4 separate regions of the Homo sapiens genome follow, and all the other regions are reported to be linked to region 2. The links are microRNA targets in miRTarBase. Many come from high-throughput screens and were not tested one by one. Region 2 holds a microRNA gene; each other region holds the end of a gene's coding sequence.

The links. Region 2 holds the annotated microRNA hsa-miR-6515-5p (UUGGAGGGUGUGGAAGACAUC, at 3,401-3,421, opposite strand). A microRNA usually pairs through its seed, bases 2 to 8, with sites in the 3' UTR of a target mRNA and lowers its output. Matches are read on the target gene's strand: a 7mer-m8 pairs with bases 2 to 8, a 7mer-A1 pairs with bases 2 to 7 and ends in A, and an 8mer does both.
Region 1: miRTarBase lists KCNQ5 as a target of hsa-miR-6515-5p. Seed matches in the 3' UTR shown: 7mer-m8 at 2,938-2,944.
Region 3: the mRNA of CD200R1 is a reported target of hsa-miR-6515-5p. Seed matches in the 3' UTR shown: 8mer at 1,529-1,536 and 7mer-m8 at 1,980-1,986.
Region 4: miRTarBase lists IMMP2L as a target of hsa-miR-6515-5p. Seed matches in the 3' UTR shown: 7mer-A1 at 6,495-6,501.

The regions. Positions count from the first base shown.
Region 1 is chr6:73,194,706-73,201,826 of GRCh38, forward strand. It overlaps KCNQ5 (potassium voltage-gated channel subfamily Q member 5), which reads left to right. Exons shown (of 14, transcript NM_019842.4): 14 at 1-4,148. The coding sequence ends at 709. Among named protein-coding and RNA genes, the nearest start is that of KHDC1L, 27 kb to the right of the region's middle.
Region 2 is chr19:12,936,786-12,943,906 of GRCh38, reverse strand. MIR6515 (microRNA 6515) reads right to left here and starts at 3,423; the gene lies at 3,367-3,423. CALR (calreticulin) reads right to left here and starts at 5,298. Exons shown (of 9, transcript NM_004343.4): 1 at 5,137-5,298; 2 at 4,672-4,773; 3 at 4,276-4,479; 4 at 3,760-3,854; 5 at 3,455-3,664; 6 at 3,253-3,366; 7 at 3,020-3,163; 8 at 278-370; 9 at 1-194. The coding sequence starts at 5,227. RefSeq lists enhancers at 2,851-3,478, 2,815-4,014, 4,907-4,956, 4,251-5,000, 5,627-5,676 and 2 more and a cis regulatory region at 5,058-5,696.
Region 3 is chr3:112,917,257-112,924,377 of GRCh38, reverse strand. It overlaps CD200R1 (CD200 receptor 1), which reads left to right. Exons shown (of 8, transcript NM_138806.4): 8 at 579-3,173. The coding sequence ends at 701. Among named protein-coding and RNA genes, the nearest start is that of CD200R1, 54 kb to the left of the region's middle.
Region 4 is chr7:110,657,034-110,664,154 of GRCh38, forward strand. IMMP2L (inner mitochondrial membrane peptidase subunit 2) reads right to left here. Exons shown (of 6, transcript NM_032549.4): 6 at 5,611-6,688. The coding sequence ends at 6,569. Among named protein-coding and RNA genes, the nearest start is that of LRRN3, 430 kb to the right of the region's middle.

The DNA of each region.
Region 1 (7,121 bases), not on the chromosome of region 2:
CAGTGCCCAGACTTTCTACGCGCTTAGCCCTACTATGCACAGTCAAGCAACACAGGTGCCAATTAGTCAAAGCGATGGCTCAGCAGTGGCAGCCACCAACACCATTGCAAACCAAATAAATACGGCACCCAAGCCAGCAGCCCCAACAACTTTACAGATCCCACCTCCTCTCCCAGCCATCAAGCATCTGCCCAGGCCAGAAACTCTGCACCCTAACCCTGCAGGCTTACAGGAAAGCATTTCTGACGTCACCACCTGCCTTGTTGCCTCCAAGGAAAATGTTCAGGTTGCACAGTCAAATCTCACCAAGGACCGTTCTATGAGGAAAAGCTTTGACATGGGAGGAGAAACTCTGTTGTCTGTCTGTCCCATGGTGCCGAAGGACTTGGGCAAATCTTTGTCTGTGCAAAACCTGATCAGGTCGACCGAGGAACTGAATATACAACTTTCAGGGAGTGAGTCAAGTGGCTCCAGAGGCAGCCAAGATTTTTACCCCAAATGGAGGGAATCCAAATTGTTTATAACTGATGAAGAGGTGGGTCCCGAAGAGACAGAGACAGACACTTTTGATGCCGCACCGCAGCCTGCCAGGGAAGCTGCCTTTGCATCAGACTCTCTAAGGACTGGAAGGTCACGATCATCTCAGAGCATTTGTAAGGCAGGAGAAAGTACAGATGCCCTCAGCTTGCCTCATGTCAAACTGAAATAAGTTCTTCATTTTCTTTCCAGGCATAGCAGTTCTTTAGCCATACATATCATTGCATGAACTATTTCGAAAGCCCTTCTAAAAAGTTGAAATTGCAAGAATCGGGAAGAACATGAAAGGCAGTTTATAAGCCCGTTACCTTTTAATTGCATGAAAATGCATGTTTAGGGATGGCTAAAATTCCAAGGTGCATCGACATTAACCCACTCATTTAGTAATGTACCTTGAGTTAAAAAGCCTGAGAAACCAAACACAGCTAATGCTATGGGGTGTATGAATATGTCAAGTTTAGGTCATTTAGAAGATTTGACACTGTATTTTGAAATTATGGGAGTAAACACCTTCAAATTTCAGGCATTTCTGCTTTGTGACTAAATACAAACTACATTTTCAAGATTAGGCCATAATGTATATTTAAACACAATGGCTATCAACAGCTGCTAATAAGGTATCAACTAAAGCAGAATTGGGGAATAATAGAAATGGCTGCTTATTTCAAGATATATTTGCCAACCCATTCCTATTCAGTCATTTTATTATTAATGTAATTTGAATGTCAATTTGTGTGCTTTTGGTGATTTAGCGCTGTGGCAAGCAATTTTGCACATCATTTTCATGTTGTTCTTTATGACAAGAATGTTCTTCAATTAGAAAATGTGCAAATAATGAAATTCAGGGCCAGTGAGGCAAATAGACTATCTGACATATTTGACTTTATGAAAACATATTGCCTGATGGCAGAATCAACTTTATAAGTGGTCAACTTCTACACAAGCGTATGAAATACTGGTCAGTAGAACAGCCATTGTGATTGGACTGGTTTCTCTGCAATGGCGCCAACCCCAGGCTTGCCAATACTGCCTATGTAAAGGGCAAGTGTGAGAAGCTATTCTCATTTCGCTGACATACAGGTAGGACTATGGGGGATGGGACATTTGAGTGGGACTGAGATAGGAAAGGCTTGAAAAGAACCCAGAAACACCACCAGGAAGTTGGCAAAGTAAAAGAAAATGACTTCCCCCTCAAAGGGCAATGAGAGGGAGAGAAACAAACCAAAATAGAAGAACTAGACTTTTTAGAAAATGAGTATTGCTAGGGAATTCAACTACCTAATCTTCCCTTATTCTTATATATAAGCAGAGAATTTTTGCAAGGTATTTATTTTTTAATATGCCCTGAATGTCTTTTGCTATTATGTGTACATTTTGCATATGAAAGTCTAAAACGAAACTTCCTTTACTTTTTATACTGTAGTGAAAATTTTCTATTCTTCCCAAGAATGTTGTCCCAAATCTGAAATTACTGGTTCAATTTCCTGATATAAACATTTACAATTAGAAGCTAGATAGTACTGGCAGAGTCTGCAAATCAGAACACTTAAATATATCATGGCAGCAAAAAGACCAAGGGAAACAAAATGACAAATGTATTTATCAGAAAGCAAGCAATGCTGACTGCTTGTTAGAAACCCATCTAGCTATCTTAGGTCACCAGAACTTCAGCCAACGTAATGACATTCAAAAAAAAAGGACATAAGAGATAGCATTTCAATTCAATTAAACCCTAGCCACAGGAGGACTCAAGAAAGGAAGTTGTTTCCTTGGCAGACATAAATGCTGCCTCCAGAAGTACTTCTCCAGCAGCCAAGCAGAATGAGCAGGGTTATCAAGTGGATGTTCAAAGGAAGAAGGAGGCCCTGAACTCCACCAATCCTCCCCAGCCCTCCCCAACAGGCTTTCTCCATCATTGACTCTCCCCTGCTTTTCTTCTTCATTAACTCCTTATTCATTCCCTGCCAGTATTTTGCTTCTGAACTTCACCAGGCCTTAACCAGCCTCCATCCCCAGGTCAACCAGTTCTCCGCTTTACCTAAAATGTGCTTCTCAACCTTTTAGAACCTTGTCCCTTTTGATAAACATGGAAATTTTTAAAGCTTCCTCTTCGCATCCCACTTGGATTCTAAGACAATTAGAATCATTTAGAATCTTTTTGGCTGCTGGAAATGTATAGAAGATAGAGGCTAAATTTTACACTTCAGTTAAGACATTGTCAATCCTTTTAAGCAATTGTTTTCATTTTCAAAATACAGAATGTTAGTAAATTATGAAAATCAATTTTTCATCTTCATTCAACCTGAAGTTGTGATTCCCCCTTGCAAGAATGTTGCATACACACACACACACACACACACACACACACACACACACACACACACACACACACACACACACCCCTCCACTGACCTAAAGCCAGACACCTGCCGTGACTGGGCAGGCTCTCTCCCATTATTAACAGAGGAAGAGGAGGGAGGCAGCAACTTTCAGGTAGCACTGATTCTTGGACATACTCTGTCCTGGGTCAAACCCCACTGGCAGCAGGAATTCTGAATGTATTGGGGACCCCTCCTTAGGCCTCGTTAAGTCTCAAACACAGTACAGCTCACCCAGCATTGCTGACGACTGAAGATTCAGAAACAAAACCTACACACAGCACTGAGGTCTTAATCATAGCAAAATGTGATAAACCATGTTGTGAAAAACTTTTATACATTGAAGCCATGACCATTTTGTGTCTATCTTACTCTAGCACAAAAATTGGGGGATGTTAAAAGATAGTTGTGTGGAAGCTATAAGGTTCTGTCTGTCGTGTTACTCTCTGTGGAAATGAGAGGGGTCTCCCATTTACACTAAGCAAATTTCCATTGGTCAATTTTAATGATGTCTTGAAGCACAATTTAGCTGAGCACTGAGTAGCCATATGCTTTCTGAGTACAAGTGTGTCTGCCTTCTTCAACATGTAGGGTTGATCAAGCTAATACTTAATTGCAAATATCCCTTGTATGAGGTTAACTAAAAAAATTTTGCTATGTCTGATCTACATGTTTGCATTTTGTTCAACTAAATTAATATTTGTAGATTGCAAGTTTTGTTTAAAATAACTTTATTGAGTTTTTAAGTCCTGATCTGTTCTAAGGTGCCTTTCTCACCTCCCATTGATTCAGTGATTCTGAAGTTCTTAATTTGCAAGTAAAATAAGTCTACTAGAGAGGAGGAAATCAGGCACAAATTGACCAATTCTCATGCCATTTGCAAAGCAAAACTGTAAGGATGATGAAACCTGGCTAACTAAATTAATGGATCATTTCACTAAATCAGATAGAGGAAATATCATAAATATTAACTTGTCTCCCTAGAAGCTGAGATTTTTCGCCTTAAATGACATGGTTGTGTTTTTGTAAGAGAAACTTAATCTAATCTAATAATGTGCATTTAAGTAAGCAGTTCTAAGTCATGTATGACAATGCAATTGTCTGTTTCCTGAAAACAAATAAATCGGGAACACCATATCCATTTCAAGCTATCATTAAAGTGTAATTTCCTTTGCTCTCTTTTACTGGGATTATTTGTTTTAAAGTAAAACATTAAAAAGATGTCTATAAACAGCTAGTGTGACTATTTTTATCTGGAACTAACTAGTTGGTTCTGAACTGACTGGACCAAGTCAACCAAACTGACTGTATACAGATTTTGGACTGAAATATAAAAATTATCTTTTTGCAGTGTTACGGAAGAAGTCTTTGGTATTTTGGGAAGGGGGGAGATTTGCATATGCTCCTGGGGTTTTTGTGAGAACTATTAATTTGAAATTGATTGTAACTCAGATACCACGCATGTGAGTTTTGTGTTATCTATAATAAAGGGATTTGCTAAACAATGTTAAGAAATGGGGGCCAGGTGGGTGCCCAAATGTTGCAGCCTCTGGCTACTCAGAACTACCATTTTAAGCACCTACCCAGCTCTGCCTCACCAGGGAAGGGCTTCTGCTCCAAAAGGACCTTTTTTTCTTCTTCCCTAAAAAAAATCCCATTTTTTCTATTTCACTAGCAATTTTGCACTAAGTGCCAAGGGTTAATCCCAGTGGAATTATTTTCAAAGAGATACAGAATGTTAAAACTCTGGAATACAAAGCAACAAAGCCCGATAGAGATGTTTTAGACAGGAGGAAGAATTACAGAGTGTTATCCTAGAGGGAAGAAAGGGCTTCCCACTACTGCTCTAAAGAGATCAAATAGTTATGTGCCTGTTCTATCAACTTCTAGATGAGGGAAAAGAAAATTGTGTATGGTATATGCTTGCTTGACCAACTTAAAAATGTTAAACCGCTTCCAAACATTTTTGGAAATACTTTAGCAGTACTTCCCACTCCTTCCATTTAAAGCAAAATATACTTACAACAGTTATTCTATCCTAACCATTCATGAAAATGGGCTGCCAGATCTTCAAGTGACAACTTCTATCAGTCTAGATTCAACTGCTTTGAGAATCTGGTACAAGTAAAAATTGTTTCTTTGAAAAACTTAAATTTTATCTCACACAGCTCTGAGATTTGAAAACAAAATAGAAATCTAAAAATGTTTTTAAAATAAAAATAGGCTGAGCACAGTGGCTCACGCCTGTAATCCCAGCCCTTTGGGAGGCCGAGGTAGTTGGATCCCCTGAGGTCAGGAATTCAAGACTAGCCTGACCAATATGGTGAAACCCCACCTCTACTAAAAGTACAAAAATCAGCCAGGCGTGGTGGTGTGCGCCTATAGTCCCAGCTACTCAGGAGGCTAAGACAGGAGAATTGCTTGAACCCGAGAGGCAGAGGTTGCAGTGAGCCAAGATTGCAGAGATCACACCACTGCACTCCAGCCTGGGCAACAGAGTGAGACTCCATCTCAATAAATAAATAAACTAATTAATTAAATAAAACAAATTTTCATTAACTGCGACAAGACTTCTCCCTCTAGCCCACCTAATTCCAAATTACTGAAGTTTTTGCTACATTTCAAAACAGAAACGTAGCAGATACATTATGCACAAACTATCGATTTAGGCACTGCTCTGGAAATCACAGCACCACAAAAACTGGTGAATGGCAAAACTTTCCTGTTCAAATAAATAGGAAGGTCAAAGGTACATTGATATGATATATTACTCTTTGCCTAGTCATATGATTTACTTCTTTTCTGTCACAATGTTGGCGACTATTTTAAGTCCAGTATGCTCTAGGATAGATATCAGGGTTCTAGGGTTTCCATACACTGTCATAACACCTGCACCTACTTTTAGAACTTTTCACTTGTATGCTTTTTTAGGTTTTTTTGGTTTTGTTTGTTTGTTTGTTTTGTTTGATTGTTTTTGGACACAGTCTCTCTCTCTGTCACCCAGGCTGGAGTGCAGTGGTGCAATCTCAGTTCACTGCAACCTCTACCTCCCAGGTTCAAGCAATTCTCGTGCCTCAGCTTCCTGAGTAGCTGGGATTACAGGTGTACACCACCATGCCCGGCTAATTTTTTGTGTTTTAGTAGAGACGAGGTTTCACCATGTTGCCCAGGCTGGTGTCAAACTCCTGAGCTCAGAGGATCCACTCGCCTTGGTCTCTAAAAGTGCTAAGATTTACAGGCATGAGCCACCGTGCACAGCAGCTTTTTTTATCTTTGGTGACACTCATCTCTTTCCATTACTTGCTGCTTCTTCCTTCTCTGTTCCTTTGCCTGCATTGCTGTGACTCACTTCCTGTATCACCAATCCCTATCCATTCCTGTGCCCCCCAAGTAACTAGGTACTCACACCCTCCCCTTGCTGCAGCTCAGGGTGCCACTCACCCTCACTTAAGCCATGAGGACATCACACCATGCACACCCCCAACACATAGATGCTTTTCAGAAGTGCTGGCACTGGCGCTCCTCATCTGAGCCCTCTGGCCAATGCTGCAATGCCCAGTTCTACCCCCGCTACCAGAAATCCCTCTGCTTGCTTGGTGGGAGAGGAGGCAAACCCCACTCCAGGATGGGAGCTCCTTGCTCTCTTTTTTTTTTTTTTTTTTTTTTTTTTTTTGAGACAGGCTGGGGTACTGTGGCACGATCTCGGCTCACTGCAACCTCAACCTCTCGGGTTCAAGAAATTTTCCTGCCTCAGCCTCCCTAGTAGCTGGGATAACAGGTGTGTGCTACCACGCCTGGCTAATTTTGGGGTTTTATTTTTTGTTGTTGTTGTTGTTGTTTTATTTTTCTGAGATGGAGTTTTGGTCTTGTTGCCCAGGCTGGAGTACAATGGTGCAATCTCAGCTCACTGCAACCTCCACCTCCTGGGTTCAAGCAATTCTCCTGCCTCAGCCTCCGGAGTAGCTGGGATTACAGGCATGCAACACCATGCCCACCTAATTTTTGCATTTTTAGTAAAGACGGGGTTTCACCATGTTAGCCAGGCTGGGTCTTGAACTCCTGACCTCAGGTCATCCACCCTCCCCCGCCTCCCAAAGTGTTGGGATTACAGGCGTTAGCCACCACGCCTGGCCTAATTTTTGTATTTTTAATAGAGATGGGGTTTTACCATGTTGGTCAGGCTGGTCTTGAACTCCTGACCTCAGG
Region 2 (7,121 bases):
TCGTCCTTGGCCTGGCCGGGGACATCTTCCTCCTCATCTTCCTCCTTGTCCTCCTCATCCTCCTCATCCTCATCTTTGTCCTCATCATCCTCCTTGTCCTCTGCCTCCTCCTCCTCTTTGCGTTTCTTGTCTTCTTCCTCCTCCTTAAGCCTCTGCTCCTCGTCCTGTTTGTCCTTCATTTGTTTCTCTGCTGCCTGCAGGCAGAGCACACACCTCAGGGCCTTGCCCCCTGCCAGCCCTGCCCGCCCCCGACATCAGGACCAGGACCAGGCCTCACCTTTGTTACGCCCCACGTCTCGTTGCCAAACTCCTCAGCGTATGCCTCATCGTTGGTGATGAGGAAGTTGTCAAAGATGGTGCCAGACTTGACCTGGAGGATGAATGGGAAGGATGGTCAGAGGTGATACCCGATAGCCCTTGCTTTGGACAGGGTTTCCACCTGTGTTCCTATAACCACTATATTCTGCTGCCTGCATCTGCAGAGAAGACAAGGAACACCGCTGACACTGCAGTTAAAAAGATGGAGAGGCCAGGTGAGGTGGATCACGCCTGTAATCCTCGCCCAGAGGCCAAGGTGGGCGGATCACGAGGTCAGGAGATCGAGACCACCCTGGCTAACACGGTGAAACCCCGTCTCTACTAAAAATACAAAAAATCAGCCAGGCGTGGTGGCAAGTGCCTGTAGTCCCAGCTATTTGGGAGGCTGAGACAGGAGAATGATGTGAACCCAGGAGGCGGAGCTTGCAGTGAGCCAAGATCGTGCCACTGCACTCCAGCCTGGGTGACAGAGTGAGACTCCATCTCCAAAAAAAAAAAAAAAAAAAAAAAAGATGGAAAGATGGAGAGACAGCCAGGGACGGGACGGGCTCATGCCTGTAATCCCAGCACTTTGGGAGGTCATGGCGAACGGATCACTTGAGGCCAGGAGTTCGAGACCAACCTGGGCAACATAGTGAAACTCTGTCTCTACTAAAAAAAATTAGCCCGGGGTCTGTGATGGCGCATCCCTGTAATCCCAGCTACTCAGGAGGCCGAGGCAGGAGAATCGCTTGAATCTGGGATGCAGAGGTTGTGGTGAGCCGCCGAGATTGCATCATTGCACTCCAGCCTGGGCAACAAGAGTGAAATTCCATCTCAAAAAAAAAAAAGCCCAGCGTCGTGGCGCATGCCTGTAATTCCAGCTGCTCGAGAGGATGAGGCATGAGAATCACTTGAACCTGGAAGGCAGAGGCTGCAGTGAGCCGAGATCAAGCCACTGCACTCCAACCTGGGTGACAGAGCAAGACTCTGTCTTAAAAAAAAAAAAAAAAAAAGATGGAGAGACTCAGGTGCTGTACTGCCCAGGTTCAAACCCCAGCTTTGTGGTTTCCTACCCCCATGACCTTGGGCCACTGACTTCAGTTCTCTGCACCTGTTTCTTGTTTCTCACTCTCTTATTCAGGTATTTTTCAGGTACCTACTACATGCCAGAACTGTCTTGGGCACAGAAGGTATTTCAGTGACCAAAACAGACAAAAATTCAGTCCCAGCATTTTTTTTTTTTTTTGGGACAGAGTCTCGCTATCACCCAGGCTGGAGTGCAATGGCATGATCTCAGCTCACTGCAAGCTCCGCCTCCCGGGTTCACGTCATCCTTTTGCCTCAGCCTCCCGAGTAGCTGGGACTACAGGCGCCCACCACCACACCTGGCAAATTTTTTGTATTTTTACTAGAGATGGGGTTTCATTCACCATGTTAGCCAGGATGGTCTCCATCTCCTGACCTTGTGATCCACCCGCCTTGGCCTCCCAAAGTGCTGGGATTACAGGTGTGAGCCACTGTGTCCGGCCAAGTCCCAACTTTTTTTGAGAGGGTCTCACTCTGTCACCGAGGCTGGAGTGCAGTGACATAATCATGGCTCACTGCAGCCTCGATGCCCCAGGCTCAAGTGATCATCCTTCTTCCTTGGTAGTTGGGACTACAGGTATGCATGACATCTCGCCAATTTTTAAAGTTTTTGTAGAGGCTAGGCATGGTGGCTAACCCTTGTAATCCCAGCACTTTGGGAGGCCGAGGCGGGCAGATGACCTGAGGCCAGGAGTTCGAGACCAACCTGGGCAACATGAAGCCCTGTCTCTACAAAAAGGCTGGGTGAGGTGGCTCACGCCTGTAATCCCAGCACTTTGGGAGGCCAAGGTGGGTGGTTCATGAGGTCAGGAGATGGAGACCATCCTGGCTAACACGGTGAAACCATGTCTGTACTAAAAAAAAAAATACAAAAAAATTAGCCAGGCATGGTGGGGGGTGCCTGTAGTCCCAGTTACTCGGGACCCTGAGGCAGAAGAATGGAGTGAACCTGGGGGGTCGTGCGGAGCTTGCAGTGAGCAGAGATCACACCACTGCACTCCAGCCTGGGCGACAGAGCAAGGCACGGTCTCAAAAAAAAAAAAAAAAAAAAAAATTAGCCTGGCATCCATAGTAGCACATGCCTGTAATCCCAGCTACTCCGGAGGCTGAGGCAGGAGAATCGCTTGAAACCAGGAGACGGAGGGCGCAGTGAGCTGAGATCGTGCCATTGCACTCCAGCCTCAGCAACAAGAGTGAAACTCTGTCTCAAAAAAAAAAATTTTTTTTGTAGAGATAGGGTCTCCTCGCTGTGTTGCCAAGCTAGGTTGAGTTGTGTAACTCCTGGCCTCAAGCAATCCTCTGTCTCAGCCTCCCAAAGTACCGTGATTGTAAGGGTGAGCCACTGTGCCCAGCCCCAGCTAACTAACTGGGTTACCTGACCACCTTCTAGGTCTTTGGGGGTAAAGAAGTTGATTTGCATAAAAGTACTTGGGGAAGTACTTGGTGCACAGCAAGTATAACCTTAAAGGGGTTGCTGTGAGGACTTCACAGGGACAGACCAGGAAGTACTGTTTACAAGAAGTACCATTTTTGAGTCAGACTCACCTGGGGTGCCTACCCTGTCCCTTTCCTCTTGGGTGATCTTATGCACTTGAGGTACCCCAGGGATCCTCCTTTTTCCTCCAAGTCTCACCTGCCAGAGGTCCAGGCCCAGCACGCCAAAGTTATCATAGGCATAGATACTGGGATCGGGAGAATACTCGGGGTTGTCAATTTCTGGGTGGATCCAAGTGCCCTTGTAATCTGGGTTGTCGATCTGCCGGGGCTTCCACTCACCCTGCAGAAGGGAGAAGGAAACCGAAGGGTGAGTAAGGTTGGTGCACTCCCCACTGTGAGCCCCAGCCCTGCTCAGAGCCCCAAACTCACCTTGTACTCAGGGTTCTGAATCACTGGGGGTTCCCACTCTCCGTCCATCTCTTCATCCCAGTCCTCGGGCTTCTTAGCATCAGGGTCAGGGATATGCTCGGGCTTGTCCCAGTCCTGGGGGGTAGATGAAGAGATCAGAGTTGGCCCAGATGTCTTCCACACCCTCCAATGTGGAGAGCAGAGCCCCTGCCCAAACACCAACCTCAGGCTTGGAGTCTGTGGGATCATCGATCTTGGCCCGCTCATCCCAGTCTTCCGGTTTTGAAGCATCAGGATCCTTTATCTTCTTGGGTGGCAGGAAGTCCCAATCGTCTTCCAAGGAGCCGGACTCCACCTGGCTGTTGTCAATCTTCACCTCATAGGTGTTGTCTGGCCGCACAATCAGTGTGTACAGGTGTGTAAACTCATCATCCTGAAGAAGGAAGAAGGTGAGCGGGGGCCACCCCCCAATGAGGCTGACCTCTGAATCTCCCCATGACAGCCATTTGCCACCACCCCCAGGCACACCTTGCAACGGATGTCCTTGTTGATCAGCACGTTCTTGCCCTTGTAGTTGAAGATGACATGAACCTTCTTGGTGCCAGGGCCACAGATGTCGGGACCTAGGTGTGAAGCAGATCCAGTTAAGAGTCAGAGACTACCCATCATCTCGAGGCTCTCACCCCTCTTTATAAAAGGAAGACCTGGTTCTTCAACTCGGGTCTGTCAAGGCTGAGAAGAGAAACTCAGACCCTGATTCTGTCCTGAATGGGCTGTGGGTGGAGCCTTAAGTTTAAAGGAGAAAAAAAAAAAATCAGTGCTCTAGAACTCAAAATCCTCATTAGTAAGATTGGGAAATAACTATATACAAACACGCAAATTAAATTAACAGCCTAGATCTGCGATCATAATGCAATAAATTGTTGCTGGGACTTATTCTTTTAGCTCCCCTTCCAAAAAAAATCATTATTAAGAAAGTCAATGGGGTCTGGGTCTCCCTCTAACTAATGGGACAGAGATCAGCACCAGGAAGCAGGCCCTCACCAAACATGATGTTGTATTCTGAGTCTCCGTGCATGTCTGTCTGGTCCAAACTATTAGGAAACAGCTTCACATAGCCGCCCCCACAGTCGATGTTCTGCTCATGTTTCACCGTGAACTGCACCACCAGCGTCTGGCCTTTGTTGCTGAAAGGCTCGAAACTGGCCGACAGAGCATAAAAGCGTGCATCCTGGCTTGTCTGCAAACCTGAGACGGGACGGTAGTGAGGTCACCGTTGGGCCTTGACTCGCGAGGACCCTCGACTTAGAGAATAGAGAAGACTCCCCCACTTCCTCCACCTGTCCTCCTCCAAGGGGACTGTCCCGGCTGTGTGTGTACAGACAAGGACTTCTGCCAGGAAGTCCTCCCGGATCTGAGCACCCACTCCTAGGCTCTTACCTTTATCTTTCTCCTCGTCACCGTAGAACTTGCCGGAACTGAGAACGAATTTGCCAAAATCTGACTTGTGTTTGGATTCGATCCAGCGGGAAGTCCACCCGTCTAAGTGGGGGATTAGAGGGGTAGGTCAGAGCGGCTGTGCTAATCCCCCCCCACACCAAACATCTGCCGAGAGCCACAAGCTGCTGGGGACAGGAAAGGAGATCCCCGACACTCCCCATTCCAACCTCTAGTTTGACACGTCGGGTGCCTTCAGAGATCCTCGGGCTAACCCTAACTCCCGCCGCGGGAGGCCGCTACGCCCTCCGCGCTCCCCAGGGACGCAGAAGAGAAATCGCCCGCGGCTCTAGTCCCGGGAGGCCACCGTGTTGGACCTCTAAACGGTAATTACGGGCGACAACGCAGATCCAGGATCGGGGGCCGGCCGCGTCGTCGGGGCGGCCTCGAGGCGGGACCAGGCGTTACCTCCGTCCAGAAACTGCTCCTTGAAGTAGACGGCAGGCTCGGCGACGGCCAGGCCGAGGAGGCCGAGCAGCAGCGGCACGGATAGCAGCATGGCGGGCCGAGGGGGCGGCAACGCGCGGGCCCTTTAAAACGACCCTCCGGCAGCGGCTCTGCAGTACGGACGGACGCCGCCGCCCGCCTTGCACTTTTATACCCACCCGCCTCTCAAACCAACCTGACCCAGCCCTTGGGCCCGCCCCTGCCACTTTGTCATTGGTCTATGCCCATGGCCGTCTTTTTCCATTGGACCTTCGTCGGTTCACTATGTTAGGCTGCGCCTCGGAACGCTGGGTTCCCAGATGGCCGATTTCTATTGGCCTCACCACCGACCAATGATGGTCGACCACGCGTGGGGGGGACGCCCACTGGTGGGGTGGGGGCCGCGAGCACCTCAGGCCAGGTCATGTGACCAGACCTGAACCCAACCCCGCCCTCGTCCGCGCGCGTCGTTGCCCATCTGGGCGTTTAAAGAAACCGCGGGAGCGCAGCTGTCTCCACGCGGGACCGGGACCCTGCCCTCAGCTTCTCTCCCTCCCATTCCCTCTAGGTGGAGGGGCTGGGCAAGGCTTTCTTAGCCAGCTCTTATCTTGCATTTGAGAACCAGCACCCCACTGCTGCTCCCCCACCCCTGCCTGGGATGGGAGAGAGCTCACGGATTGGGGCCCTTGGGGCTTCGCTGCACCCCGGTGCTACAGTCACGCGGGCCGGTGGGAAGAATGCCAGCCCTCTCCTCCTTCTGCCCCTAGAGCCCTGGCAGCCTATCGGACTGCTGCTGTGTGACCGGGGCAAGTCACTTAAGCTCTCTGAAGTGACAGACGTTCCTGAGCAGACAGAGGGGGCGACCCTGGCCAGATGCTACCCAGCAGAAATGCTTTTAACGTTTTTAAAGCTGTCCTGGGACAAGAGGGGAGGAAGGCTTAACGATGTGACTGTGACTTCTGGAGTGGGGATAGGGTTATTACCCAGATTGCAGCCGCCCCTTTACCCTCCTCTCAACCGGTAAATGAAGGGGGTCGCTGTCTGTGGTCTCCCACAAACGGCCTGGCTTTTGCAATTAAACGGCTATAGGCAGGCGAGAGGGCAGGGGGTTCCGTTTGGGGAGGGAAAAAAGACACAGATGGTAGGGACGATAAGATGCTAGGGAGATGGGCAGGACCCACCCCCCGACCCCAGTCTAGAGTCTTCTTCAGAAGCCAGAGGCACGTGACTGGCACCAGTACCCTGCCCCCACGCTGTAGAAAGGAGGAAGGAGAGCTGGGGGTTTTCCAAACTCTGGGCAAATAAGCCCTGGACCTGGGAGCGCGGGAGTGGACTATGGAAGGAGGGAATGAGGGGGATCCAGGAAAGAGGGTGGGGAGGGGGTGCTTCCTGGCTAATGGTTGTGACTCAGAAAAGAGAGGAAGGAAAAAATGAAAAGGAAAATAAAGTGGAGTGGGGGGAATGACTTGGCAAGGGTCTCTGGTTAAAAAAAAAAAAAAGAAATGGTGGCCGGGCGCAGTGGCTCACGCCTGTAAACCCAGCACTTGGGGAGGCCGAGGCGGGCAGATCATTTTAGGTCAGTTCGAGACCAGCCTGGCCAACAAGGTGAAAACCCATCTCCACTAAAAATAAAAATAAATAAATAAATAAAAATTAGCCAGGCGTGGTGGCGGGTGCCTCTAATCCCAGTACTCGGGAGGCTGAGGTGGGAGAATCGCTTGAACCTGGGAGCCAGAGATTGCAGTGAGCCAAGATCACGCCACTCCACTCCAGCCCACCAGCCCAGGTGACAGAGCAAGACTCCATCTCGAAAAAAAGACGGGGGAGAATGAACTGGGAAGTTGGGGTTCTACCACTTCCTCTAGGTAGTATTCAGTATTGCCTAGTCTGGTCCCCCCCATGAGGATCCCGGGGACCATCCCAGGCCTCTTGCTGACCCTTCCTCCTGTTCCTGTGTCAGGCACCTG
Region 3 (7,121 bases), not on the chromosome of region 2:
GTTCTGACTTGCAGTGCTTATATGTGTGATTACTTTGTTAATTATCTATCAAATACTATTTATACATCATCACTCTGAACCACATTTTCACTTCATGAACTATATCCTAACACATATGATGTTTGGCTCCTTTAGACTGTAATCTTTTGAGGAAATGAATTGGTGTTTCTTGTCACCAATTTGAAAGCATCTCTAATTCCTGACTTTTCCTTTTCAATACTATCATTATTTTTCTCTTACACAAACTTAAAACATATCCTGCTCCTTCATCTCTTATTATAAGTAGCTTACTAAGTCTCCAAAGCTCTCCTTTGGAGTACTCATATCACTTCATTCATCTCCATTCCTACTTGCACAGAGCCATTATCTCCACACAGAGACTTATGTAGTTAACAAATACTTTTTGATAAAATGTTAGAACAAATCCTGCTCTTATGTTTATATAGGCCCAGAAACACAATTATAAGCACTCTTGAGCACCTGTTAGAAATACTAAAGCTATGGGCAACTGTTACAAAAATACAGATAGTCTCTATGATGATTTTTTGAATTGATTTTAACTTTGAGTTCTTTCTTAGGATGAAATGCAGCCCTATGCCAGCTACACAGAGAAGAACAATCCTCTCTATGATACTACAAACAAGGTGAAGGCATCTGAGGCATTACAAAGTGAAGTTGACACAGACCTCCATACTTTATAAGTTGTTGGACTCTAGTACCAAGAAACAACAACAAACGAGATACATTATAATTACTGTCTGATTTTCTTACAGTTCTAGAATGAAGACTTATATTGAAATTAGGTTTTCCAAGGTTCTTAGAAGACATTTTAATGGATTCTCATTCATACCCTTGTATAATTGGAATTTTTGATTCTTAGCTGCTACCAGCTAGTTCTCTGAAGAACTGATGTTATTACAAAGAAAATACATGCCCATGACCAAATATTCAAATTGTGCAGGACAGTAAATAATGAAAACCAAATTTCCTCAAGAAATAACTGAAGAAGGAGCAAGTGTGAACAGTTTCTTGTGTATCCTTTCAGAATATTTTAATGTACATATGACATGTGTATATGCCTATGGTATATGTGTCAATTTATGTGTCCCCTTACATATACATGCACATATCTTTGTCAAGGCACCAGTGGGAACAATACACTGCATTACTGTTCTATACATATGAAAACCTAATAATATAAGTCTTAGAGATCATTTTATATCATGACAAGTAGAGCTACCTCATTCTTTTTAATGGTTATATAAAATTCCATTGTATAGTTATATCATTATTTAATTAAAAACAACCCTAATGATGGATATTTAGATTCTTTTAAGTTTTGTTTATTTCTTTTAAGTTTTGTTTGTGGTATAAACAATACCACATAGAATGTTTCTTGTGCATATATCTCTTTGTTTTTGAGTATATCTGTAGGATAACTTTCTTGAGTGGAATTGTCAGGTCAAAGGGTTTGTGCATTTTACTATTGATATATATGTTAAATTGTGTCAAATATATATGTCAAATTCCCTCCAACATTGTTTAAATGTGCCTTTCCCTAAATTTCTATTTTAATAACTGTACTATTCCTGCTTCTACAGTTGCCACTTTCTCTTTTTAATCAACCAGATTAAATATGATGTGAGATTATAATAAGAATTATACTATTTAATAAAAATGGATTTATATTTTTGGTCATGTTTGTAAGAGAGTGAATGCACGTGTGAGAACATTAGCTTCTTCTGAACTCATTATATCTCCACAGAGGTGTTGATACTTGATGCCTAACAGTTTTGCAGATGTGCTACATTGGAATTGTGTATTTTTATGGTGTACATTCTATTGTGATATATTTATTGAATAATTAATGTCTATTGACCATATAAGTGGCGAAAAATGCACCATAGAGGACATGGGGTATTTATTTACAAACTATGAGCTACATAATAAGCAAGTGGCCATGGGATGGCATGACCCTCCCCTCCATATTTTTGTGGAGCAAAATATTGGCAATGTTTATGTAAATCATTGTTAATATCATGAAATTATTTTTAATTAAAAACATAAGTCTATTTGCTCCATAGCAGAAAAAACATGAGAAGTTTTTTCATCATGATAGAAATTGAAACAAAATATATTCATTCTTCAATCATACCATCTGAGATTTTTAAGACAGCTATTTTGTCTTATAAGTATATTTTTCTCCCTCTAGACATTTCAGTTACTATGGATTTTGTCCTCAAAGGGACTTTTAGTCTATTTTGGATGTAAAGCTAATCTAATGACACTTGGCACATGATATTTTGATCAAGCCATTTTGACTTGACCAAAAAGCAGTGTCCATTAGGTTTCTGCATATAAATATTACCAAGCAATGTTCACAATAGACATCATTACACTGTCCTTGAAATTTATTAATTCTTCATCCAACCCTGGTTGAGCTGAGGCTCATAGTTAGGTTCAAGACTATCTGTTTAAATATTACTGAAAAACAAAGTAAGACAGTACTATGCTTACCTCTTAACTTGATAATGTCAAAACAGGCATGTTAAATGACATCATAGAAAAGACTTCAAGATAATTTATAGAAGTTAAATTATATTGTACAGAAAATAATTGTATGAAAATCTCTACTATGGGGCTGGAACATGGTTGAACATTAGAATGATATAAAAAATTATATATATTCTCCAAATCCACGCTAGACCTGTCAAATTAGAGAATCTAGAGATTAGACCTGGCGTGTCAGCAAGGTCATCCAGGAAGCAGAGGCTGAGACGGAGTTAGGTGTGATTACTTACATAGTCGATTACATTTTACAAATAACATTTTATATGTCTCATTTACTGTGCTTTCTCCCCATCCCATTTTGTATCTTTTCCTTTGCTTTGCTAGATTTGTCAATTTTCTCTCTCTTTCTCTGTCTCTCTCTCTTTCAATATCTCTAATAATTTGAAAGTAATTCATCATAACTAAATATCTATTGGGGTTATGCTTCACTTACAAACTTCTGAAAACGGCTTTACTGAGATATAATTGATATATTTAAGTGTACAGTTTGTTAAATTTTGCACATATTTAAAATGTGGACTTTGGTAAATGTTGACATAGTTTTACATCTGTGAAACCATCAGCATAATCAAGATAATAAACTTGTCCATCACCCCCCAAAATTTTCTTGTTTCTTTGTGAGCCTATCCCTACAAACTTCTTGTTCCTCCTCATCCCCCGCTCCCCAGGCAACCTCTGATCTGCTTTCTGTAACTATGTATTAGTTAGCATTTTTTAGAATTTTCCATAAATAAAATCATGTAAATATCATCACAATAGACACTCTTTTATTTTTTTGGTTGGACTTTTTTTCTCATTATAATTATTTTGAGATACATCCACATCCACACAATGATACTGCATTCTTTTTATTCCAAATAGTATTTAATTTTATAGCTATACCAGTTTGTTTATCTGTTTGCCTGTTGGTGGACATTTGTGTTGTTTCCAGTTTTGGGTTATTAGAAATAAAGCTGCTATACACATTATTTTGCAAGTATTTTTGTTGACATATATTTTTATTTTTCCTGAGCAAATACTGATGAGTGGATTGGCTAGATCAGATGATATGTAGATGTTTCACTTTTAAAGAACTTGCCAATCTTTGTTTCTTTTCTTTTTTTAATTTTTTTTAAAGTAAACTTTTAATTTCAGATTAGTTTCATTTATTATTATTATACTTTATTTTATTTATTTATTTATTTTTTTTTTTTTAATTATACTTTAAGTTTTAGGGTACATGTGCACATTGTGCAGGTTAGTTACATATGTATACATGTGCCATGCTGGTGCGCTGCACCCACTAACTCGTCATCTAGCATTAGGTATATTAAGTCCTGGGATACATGTGGAGAAGGTGCAGGTTTGTTACATAGGTATACACGTGCCATGGTGGTTTGCTGCACCCATCAACCCATCATCTACATTAGGTGTTTCTCCTAATGCTCTCCCTCCCCTAGCTCCCCACCCACCAAAAGGCCCCAGTGTGTGATGTTCCCCTCCCTGTGCCCATATGTTCTCATTGTTCAACTCCTACTTATGAGTGAGAACATGCGGTGTTTGGTTTTCTGTTCCTGTGTTAGTTTGCTGAGAATGATGGTTTCCAGCTTCATCCATGTCCCTGCAAAGGACATGAACTCATTTTTTATGGCTGCATAGTATTCCATGGTGTATATGTGCTACATTTTCTTTATCCAGTCTATCATTGATAGGCACTTGAGTTGGTTCCAAGTCTTTGCTATTGTGAACAGTGCTGCAATAAACATACGAGCGCATGTGTCTTTAAAGTAGAATGATTTATAATCCTTTGGGTGTATACCCAGTAATGGGATTGCTGGGTCAAATGGTATTTGTAGTTCTAGATCCTTGAGGAATTGCCACACTGTCTTCCACAATGGTTGAACTAATTTACACTCCCACCAACAGTGTAAAAGCATTCCTATTTCTCCACATCCTCTCCAGCACCTGTTGTTTCCTGACTTTAATGATCGCCATTCTAACTGGCGTGAGATGGTATCTCATTGTGGTTTTGATTTGCATTTTTCTGATGACGAGTGACGATGAGCTTTTTTTCATATGTTTGTTGGCAGCATAAATGTCTTCTTTTGAGAAGCATCTGTTCATATCCTTTGCCCACTTTTCGATGGGTTTTTTTTTTCTTGTAAATTTGTTTAAGTTCCTTGTAGATTCTGGATATTAGCCCTTTGTCAGATGAGTAGATTGCAAAAATTTTCTCCCATTCTGTAGGTTGCCTGTTCACCCTTATGATAGTTTCTTTTGCTGTGCAGAAGTTCTTTAGTTGAATTAGATCCCATTTGTCAATTTTGGCTTTTGTTGCCCTTGTTTTTGGTATTCTAGTCATGAAGTCTTTGCCCATGCCTATGTCCTGAATGTTATTGTGTAGGTTTTCTTCTAGGGTTTTATGGTTTTAGGTCTTAGGTTTAAGTCTTTAATCCATCTTGAGTTAATTTTTGTATAAGGTGTAGGAAAGGGGTCCCGTTTCAGTTTTCTGCATATGGCTGGCCAGTTTTCCTAGCACCATTTATTAAATAGGGAATCCTTTCCCCATTGCTTGTTTTTGTCAGGTTTGTCAAAAATCAGATGGTTGTAGATGTGAGGCATTATTTCTGAGGCCTCTGTTCTGTTCCATTGGTCTATATATCTGTTTTAGTACCAGTACCATGCTGTTTTGGTTACTGTAGCCTTATAGTATAGTTTGAATTCAGGTAGCGTGATGACTCCAGCTTTGTTCTTTTTGCTTAGGATTGTCTTCGTTGTATGGGCTCTTTTTTGGTTCCATATGAAATTTAAAGTAGCTTTTTTCCAATTCTGTGAAGAAAGTCAATGGTAGCCTGAGGGAGATAGCATTGAATCTATAAATTACTTTGGGCAGTATGGCCATTTTCATGCTATTGATTCTTCCTATCCATGAGCGTGGAATCTTTTTCCATATGTTTGTGTCCTCTCTTATTTCCTTGAGCAGTCGTTTATAGTTCTCCTTGAAGAGGTCCTTCACATCCCTTGTAAGTTGTATTCCTAGGTATTTTATTCTCTTTGTAGCAATTGTGAATAGGAGTTCACTCATGATTTGGCTCTGTGTTTGTCTATTATTGATGTATAGGAATGCTTGTGATTTTTGCACATTGATTTTGTATCCTAAGACTTTGCTGAAGTTGCTTATCAGCTTAAGGAGATTTTCGGCTGGGACGATGGGAGTTTTCTAAATAGACAATCATGTCATCTGCAAATGGAGACAATTAGACTTCCTCTCTTCCTATTTGAATACGGTTTATTTCTTTCTCTTGCCTGATTGTCCTGGCCCGAACTTCCAATACTATGTTGAATAGGAGTGATGAGAGAGGGCATCCTTGTCTTGTGCTGGTTTTCAAAGGGAATGCTCCCAGCTTTTTCCCATTCAGTATGATATTGGCTGTGGGTTTGTCATAAATAGCTTTTATTATTTTGAGATACGTTCCATTAATACCTAGTTTATTGAGAGTTTTTAGCATGAAGGGGTATTGAATTTTATCAAAGGCCTTTTCTGCATCTATTGAGATAATCATGTGGTTTTTGTCATTGGTTCTGTTTATGTGATGGATTACGTTTATTGATTTGCTTATGTTGAACCAACCTTGCATCCCAGGGATGAAGCTGACTTGATCGTGGTGGATAAGCTTTTTGATGTGCTGCTGCTGGATTCAGTTTGCCAGTATTTTATTGAGGATTTTTAGCACCGATGTTAATCAGGGATATTGGCCTGGAATTTTCATTTTTGTTGTGTCTCTGCCAGGTTTTGGTGTCAGGATGATGCTGGCCTCATAAAATGAGTTAGGGAGGAGTTGCTCTTTTTTTTATTGTTTGGAATAGTTTCAGAAGGAATGGTTCCAGCTCCTCTTTGTGCCTTTGGTAGAATTTGGCTGTGAATCTGGCTGGTCCTGGGCATGTTTTGGTTGGTAGGATATTAATTACTGCCTCAATTTCAGAACTTGTTATTGGTTTATTCAGGGATTCGACTTCTTTCTGGTTTAGTCTTGGGAGGGTCTATGTGTCCAGGAATTTATCTATTTCTTCTAGATATTCTAGTTTATTTGTGTGGAGGTGTTTATAGTATTCTCTGATGGTAGTTTGTATTTCTGTGGAATCAATGGTGATATCCCCTTTATCATTTTTTTTTTGTGTATGTATTTGAGTCTTCTCTCTTTTATTCTTTATTTTGTTAATCTTTTCAAAAAACCAGCTCCTGGATTCTTTTTTTTTTTTTTTTTTTTTTTTTGACAGTCTCACTCTCTCACCAGGCTGGAATGCAGTGGCATGATATTGGCTCACTGCAACCTCCACCTCCTGGGTTACAGCGATTCTCCTGTCTCAGCCTCCTGAGTAGCTGGGACTACAGGCACACACCACCATGCCCAGTTAATTTTTGTATTTTTAGTAGAGACAGGGTTTCACCATGTTGGCCAGGATGGTCTTGATCTCTTGACCTCATGATCTGCCTACCTTGGCCTCCCAAAGTGCTGAGATTACAGGGATGAGCCAGTGTGCCTGGCCTGGATTCATTGATTTTCTGAAGG
Region 4 (7,121 bases), not on the chromosome of region 2:
CGATGGGGTTTTCTAAATATACAATCATGTTATCTGCAAACAGGGACAATTTGACTTCCTCTTTTCCTAACTGAATACCTTTTATTTCTTTCTCCTGCCTGATTGCACTGGCCAGAACTTCCAACACTACGTTGAATATGAGTGGTTAGAGAGGGCATCCCTGTCTTGTGCCAGTTTTCAAAGGGAATGATTCCAGTTTCTGCACATTCAGTATGATATTGGCTGTGGGTTTGTCATAAATAGCTCTTATTATTTTGAGATGTGTCCCATCAATCCCTAGTTTATTGAGAGTTTTTAGCATGAAGGGCTGTTGAATTTTGTCAATGGCCTTTTCTTCATCTACTGAGAAAATCATGTGGTTTTTGTCTTTGGTTCTGTTTATATGATGGATTACATTTATTGATTTGTGTATGTTGAACCAGATTTGCATCCCAGCGATGAAGCCAACCTGATCGTGGTTGACAAGCTTTTTGATGTGCTGCTGGATTCGGTTTGCCAGTATTTTATTGAGGATATTTGCATCAATGTTCATCAGGAATATTGGTCTAAAATACTCTTTTTTTGTAGTGTCTCTGCCAGGCTTTGGTATCAGGATGATACCGGCCTCATAAAATGAGTTAGGAAGGATTCCCTCTTTTTCTATTGATTGGAATAGTTTCAGAAGGAATGGTACCAGCTCCTCCTTGTACCTCTGGTAGAATTCAGCTTTGAATCCATCTGGTCCTGGACTTTTTTTGTTTGGTAGGCTATTAATTATTGCCTCAATTTCAGAGCCTGTTATTGGTCTATTCAGGGATTCAACTTATTCCTGGTTTAGTCTTGTGAGGGTGTATGTGTCCAGGAATTTATCCATTTCTTCTAGATTCTCTAGTTTGTTTGTGTAGAGGTGTTTACAGTATTCTCTGATGGTAGTTTGTATTTCTCTGGGATTGTTGGTGATATCCCCTTTATCATTTTTTATTGCATCTATTTGATTCTTCTCTCTTTTCTTCTTTATTAGTCTTGTTAGCGGTCTATCAATTTTGTTGATCTTTTCAAAACACCAGCTCCTGGATTCATTGATTTTTTGAAGGGTTTTTTGTGTCTCTATCTCCTTCAGTTCTGCTCTCATCTTAGTTATTTCTTGCTTTCTGCTAGCTTTTGAATGTGTTTGCTCTTCCTTCTCTAGTGCTTTTTATTGTGATGTTAGGGTGTCAATTTTAGATCTTTCCTGCTTTCTCTTGTGGGCATTTAGTGCTATAAATTTCCCTCTACACTGCTTTAAATGTGTCCCAGAGATTCTGGTATATTGTGTCTTTGTTCTCATTGGTTTCAAAGAACATCTTTATTTCTGCCTTCATTTCGTTATGTACCCAGTAGTCATTCAGGAGCAGGTTGTTCAGTTTCCATGTAGTTGAGCAGTTTTGAGTGAGTTTCTTAATCCTGAGTTCTAGTTTGATTGCACTGTGGTCTGAGAGACAGTTTGTTAAAATTTCTGTTCTTTTCCATTTGCTGAGGAGTGCTTTACTTCCAACTGTGTGGTCAATTTTGGAATATGTGTGATGTGGTGCTGAGAAGAACGTATATTCTGTTGATTTGGGGTGTAGAGTTCTGTAGATGTCTATGAGGTCTGCTTGGTGCAGAGCTGAGTTCAATGCCTGGATATCCTTGTTAACTTTCTGTCTCGTTGATCTGTTTAATGTTGACAGTGGGGTGTTAAAGTCTCCCATTATTATTGTGTGGGAGTCTAAGTCGCTTTGTAGGTCTCTAAGGACTTGCTTTATGAATCTGGCTGTTCCTGTTTTGGGTGCATATACATTTAGGAAAATTAGCTCTTCTGGTTGAATTGATCCCTTTACCATTATGTAATGGCCTTCTTTGTCTCTTTTGATCTTTGTTGGTTTAAAGTCTGTTTTATCTGAGACTAGGATTGCAAACCCTGCTTTTTTTTGTTTTCCATTTGCTTGGTAGATCTTTCTCCATCCCTTTTTTTTGAGCCTATATGTCTCACTGCACACGAGATGGGTCTCCTGAATACAGCACACCATTGGGTCTTGACTCTTTGTCCAGTTGGAGCATTTAGCCCATTTACATTTAAAGTTAATATTGTTATGTGTGAATTTGATCCTGTCATTATGATGTTAGCTGGTTATTTTGCTTGTTAGTTGATGCAGTTTCTTCCTAGCCTTGATGGTCTTTACAATTTGGTATGATTTTGCAGTGGCTGGTACTGGTTGTTCCTTTCCATGTTTAGTGCTTCCTTCAGGAGCTCTTGTAGGGAAGGCCTGGTGGTGACAAAATGTCTCAGCATTTGCTTGTCTGTAAAGTATTTTATTTCTCCTTCACTTATGAAGCTTAGTTTGGCTGGATATGAAATTCTGGGTTGAAAATTCTTTTCTTTAAGAATGTTGAATATTGCCCCCCTCTCCGCACTCTCTCTGGCCTGTAGAGTTTCTGCTGAGAGATCTGCTGTTAGTCTGATGGGCTTCCCTTTGTGAGTAACCTGACTTTTCTCTCTGGCTGCCCTTAATATTTTTTCCTTCATTTCAACTTTGGTGAATCTGACAATTATGTGTCTTGGAGTTGCTCTTCTCGAGGAGTATCTTTGTGGCGTTCTCTGTATTTCCTGAATTTGAATGTTGGCCTGCCTTGCTAGGGTGGGGAAGTTCTCCTGGATAATATCCTGCAGAGTGTTTTCCAACTTGGTTCCATTCTCCCCGTCACTTTCAGGTACACCAATCAAACGTAGATTTGGTCTTTTCACATAGTCCCATATTTCTTGGAGGCTTTGTTCATTTCTTCTCTTTTTTCTCTAAACTTCTCTTCTCACTTCATTTCATTCATTTGATCTTCAATCACTGATACCCTTTTTTCCACTTGATCAAATTGGCTACTGAAGCTTGTGCATGCATTAAGTTATTTCTCGTGCCATGGTTTTCAGCTCCATCCGGTCATTTAAGGTCTTCTCTACACTGTTTATTCTAGTTAGCCATCTGTCTAATCTTTTTTCAAGGTTTTTAGCTTCTTTGCGATGGGTTTGAACATCCTCCTTTAGCTTGGAGAAGTTTGTTATTACCAATCGTCTGAAGCTTTCTTCTCTCAACTCATCAAAGTCATTCTCCATCCAGCTTTGTTCCATTGCTGGCGAGGAGCTGTGTTCCTTTGGAGGAGAAGAGCTGCTCTGATTTTTAGAATTTTCAGCTTTTCTGCTCTGGTTTCTCCCCATCTTTTTGGTTTTATCTACCTTTGGTCTTTGATGATGGTGATGTGCAGATGGGGTTTTGGTGTGGATTTCCTTTCTGTTTATTAGTTTTCCTTCTAACAGTCAGGACCGTGAGCTACAGGTCTGTTGGAGTTCACTGGAAGTCCACTCCAGACCCTGTTTGCCTGGGTATCGCCAGTGGAGGCTATAGAACAGCAAATATTGCAGAACGGCAAATGTTGCTGCCTGATCCTTCCTCTGGAAGCTTCATCTCAGAGGGGCTCCCAGCTGTTTGAGGTGTCAGTCGGCCCCTACTGGGAGGTGTCTCCCAGTTAGGCTCCTCGGAGGTCAGGGACCCATTTGAGGAGGCAGTCTGTCCGTTCTCAGATCTCAACCTCTGTGCTTGGAGAACCACTACTCTCTTCAAAGCTGTCAGATAGGGATGTTTAAGCCAGCAGAAGTTTTTGCTGCCTGTTGTTCAGCTATGCCCTGCCCCCAGATGTGGAGTCTACAGAGGCAGGCAGGCCTCCTTGAGCTGCAGTGGGCTCCACCCAGTTCGAGCTTCCCAGCTGCTTTGTTTGCCTACTCAAGCCTCAGCAATTGTGGACGCCCCTCCCCCAGCCTTGCTGCCACCTTGCAGTTCGATCTCAGACTGCCATGCTAGCAGTGAGCGAGGCTCTGTGGGCATGGGACCCTGTGAGCCAGGCGCAGGATATAATCTCCTGGTGTGCCATTTGCTAAGACCATTGGAAAAGCGTAGTATTAGGGTGGGAGTGTCCCGATTTTCCAGGTATCATCTGTCATGGCTTCCCTTGGCTAGGAAAGGGAATTCCCTGACTCCTTGCACTTCCTGGGTGAGGCGATGCCCGCCCTGCTCTGTTGGCTGCACCCACTGTCCGACAAGTCCCAGTGAGAGAAACCCAGTACCTCAGTTGGAAATGCAGAAATCACCCATCTTCTGCATTGCTCATGCTGGGAGCTGTAGACTGCAACTGTTCTTATTTGGCCATCTTGGAACATCCGATATATAACACATTTTTATAAGTTACTTGGTAAAATTGTTTGAAATGACTGTTGTAAAAAGTGAAAAAAAATTAATTACAAATCTCAATATTCCTGAGGTACAATCATTATTTCACATTTTACAAATTAAATGTATAAAACATAATACACACACTACACCCTGAACAGTAAACTAGCAGTAATGTTTGAGAGGAAACTATTTAAGTAACTGAAATCGTTTATACAGATTAAATTTATAATTCACAGGAGGGGAACTCCATTCATCCTAGAAGGCTCAGCCCGTGGCACCCCTCCTGTGGTGGTTTCTCCCATCCCTATTTCCCCAGGCACAATCAGATTTACAGCCCTTTCTGCTCCCATTGCACCTATTCCATGCTCTATACCTACTGCGGAATTGTATGTTAACTCTTTGCCTCTTTACAGTTCCTCCTGCCCCCACCAGTCGACTATGAGAACCTTTGTTTTATCTACTTTGATTTTCCTGTCCTTAACACAGTGCCTAGGATTCATACATTGATTGGACAGGATTTTATTGTCAATTATGAGCAATCGTATGACCAAGTTGAGCAAGATAAACCCTGCTCTAGATTAGACTACTAGTTCACAGTCTAGTAGGGGAGAAAGTATGTACACGAATCATTAACATGCAGAGTGATACATTAATGAAGGTATATACCAGGTAGAGCAGTGACTTTGCCTGGGGATGTATTCCTGAGGAAGTAACTAGTCAGCTGAGCTGTTCAACAAGCATTAGGCATTAACTCTGCTGGTGATGTGCTGGATGGCTAGTGAATAGAAAATTGAATAGAAAGAGCATTTACCTTCCCTCCAAAGATATACAATCTTGAATGAATAGTTCGAGTAACAATGGCACGGGTAGTCAATAAGGTAGCAAGGCTGATAGCCAATGGGGTAAACTGTTAAAATATTGAACTCTTCTATACCAGTGGTAAATAGCAGTCACTACCAGCACCTGTCTATTTGTTCTTTACTCTACCTCCCCTCAGTACTCCCAATCCCCTCCTATATGACCCATAGACCCTCCTGTGTTCCAGCAAGTAAAGAGTCAATACCCTTATGTACTAAACATTTTACACATAATTCCAAGGGATGCACTTTGCCAAGAAAGAAAAAAATTACAAGCTTTGAAATAGCAGTATTTGGTAAACTGCAGTTAAAAGCCAGGGTATGAAGTTCGAGTTGGGGAAAAGAGAAAATGGAACTGAAGAATTGAGAAGGGCAATGAAGAGCCACAGAAAAATTTTAAGCAGATCTGTTTTAAAAAAAATTCTGTCCAACATTAGTATGTAAGTGCTCATTAATATTTGTTGAATATGATTATGCTAATAATAATTTACACAAACCTCTAACCAATGGGAGAAAAAGAAGCTTTCATAAACATGGACTTAGATGCAGGGAATTTATTCCATTATCCATACAAATTACAGACTCTATGATTCTACTGTAACTTTGCAATTGGTGATTTCAGTATTACAGACGTGAATACTGAGAAATAATTAGGGGAAGAAAATCAAACGTGGCTGATCTGGACTGTTTTTTCTTCTATTTCACTCAGAACTTTTAAACACATAGTATGACTAAATGCGGATAAAGGGGTTTACCCATCATTGTGAATAGGCATGAGATCACTCAGAAATGTTGGATTACAAAGGGCCAATAAGAAAGGCTTGACTGTATGCAAGTGTCGACAGAATGGGTTCTCCATTACTTTGATTCCTTATTTTCAGAAGAGATAAGAAATTCCTCATTAATGGATGTACTCAATGAGAATTAAATACTCAAAACAGGACCTTAGCAAATCATTGTTTTATTTTAACATCACTGTTTACTGTTCTTCCTAACTGGCAGTTACTCCTTTGTAGATAGTACAAATCACAATGTAATTCCCATCATTATGTGTATAATATGTGTTCCTTCTTGTTCTACCTTAACAGCAAGTGACAAATACATCATTTTTATTGAATATTAATTTTCAATTTATTTCAGCAGCAAGCACCAAAATCAAAACCCAACAATCAATATAATAAGTATATGTAACAAATAATCTGAAATTCAGCCCCATTAAGACATGTGGGTGCAATATTTTTATATTCCCAAAGGTCTGCATATTTTGGGGGCATTAAACAACAGGGAACTAAAATTTAACACAAAATCAGGTGCCATTTAATACTGTTTAACATTTGAAAATTATTTATTTAATAATACAGATCGTTTTAATGTGCTGTAAATATTTCTCGCACAGCATCATATTGTCAGAAGTTTTTCCCTTTTGGAGGCTTCTTTTTTCCATTCCTTTCCAGTAACTGGCCTCCCAATGCCAGCAACTCAGGTAGATTCATGCAGTCATTCCTCTTCTCTCTGTACTGGTAAGCGCTCTGGAGGAAGAACAGATTCCAATTTCTGCCAGCGCTCTGGGGGCCACAGGATATGTGTGGCATGGGCATGCAGAAGTCCTAGGGAAACCTTAATTCATGAGAAACAGAAAGAAAGCAATAAAGAGATCATTTTATAAGAATCATTATTAATAGCTTGAAAGCAGAATTTAATCCAGGTTTAACATCCCAGGGAGAAGTGATGATGAATAAAAAAAATAGTAAACACCTTTTGTAGCCATTGAAATACAAAGAAAAATACAGTAAGCACTTATATAGCATTTTTCTAGGTGCTATTGTATATAAACTCCTTTAATCCTCACAAAAACCATTTGAAGTAGGTTCTGTTAGTATTTCCCTTTTAGAAATGAGAAAGCAAAGCTCAAAGAGGTTAAAAAATTTGCCAAAATTCATACAGCTACCAAGCGGTTAGTCTGTGTTTAGAACCAAGCAGTTTGACTCGAGTCCACCATCTTAACCATTAGCCTCAAGAGCCTATTTGCATAGACCCAGGAAGCATAAAT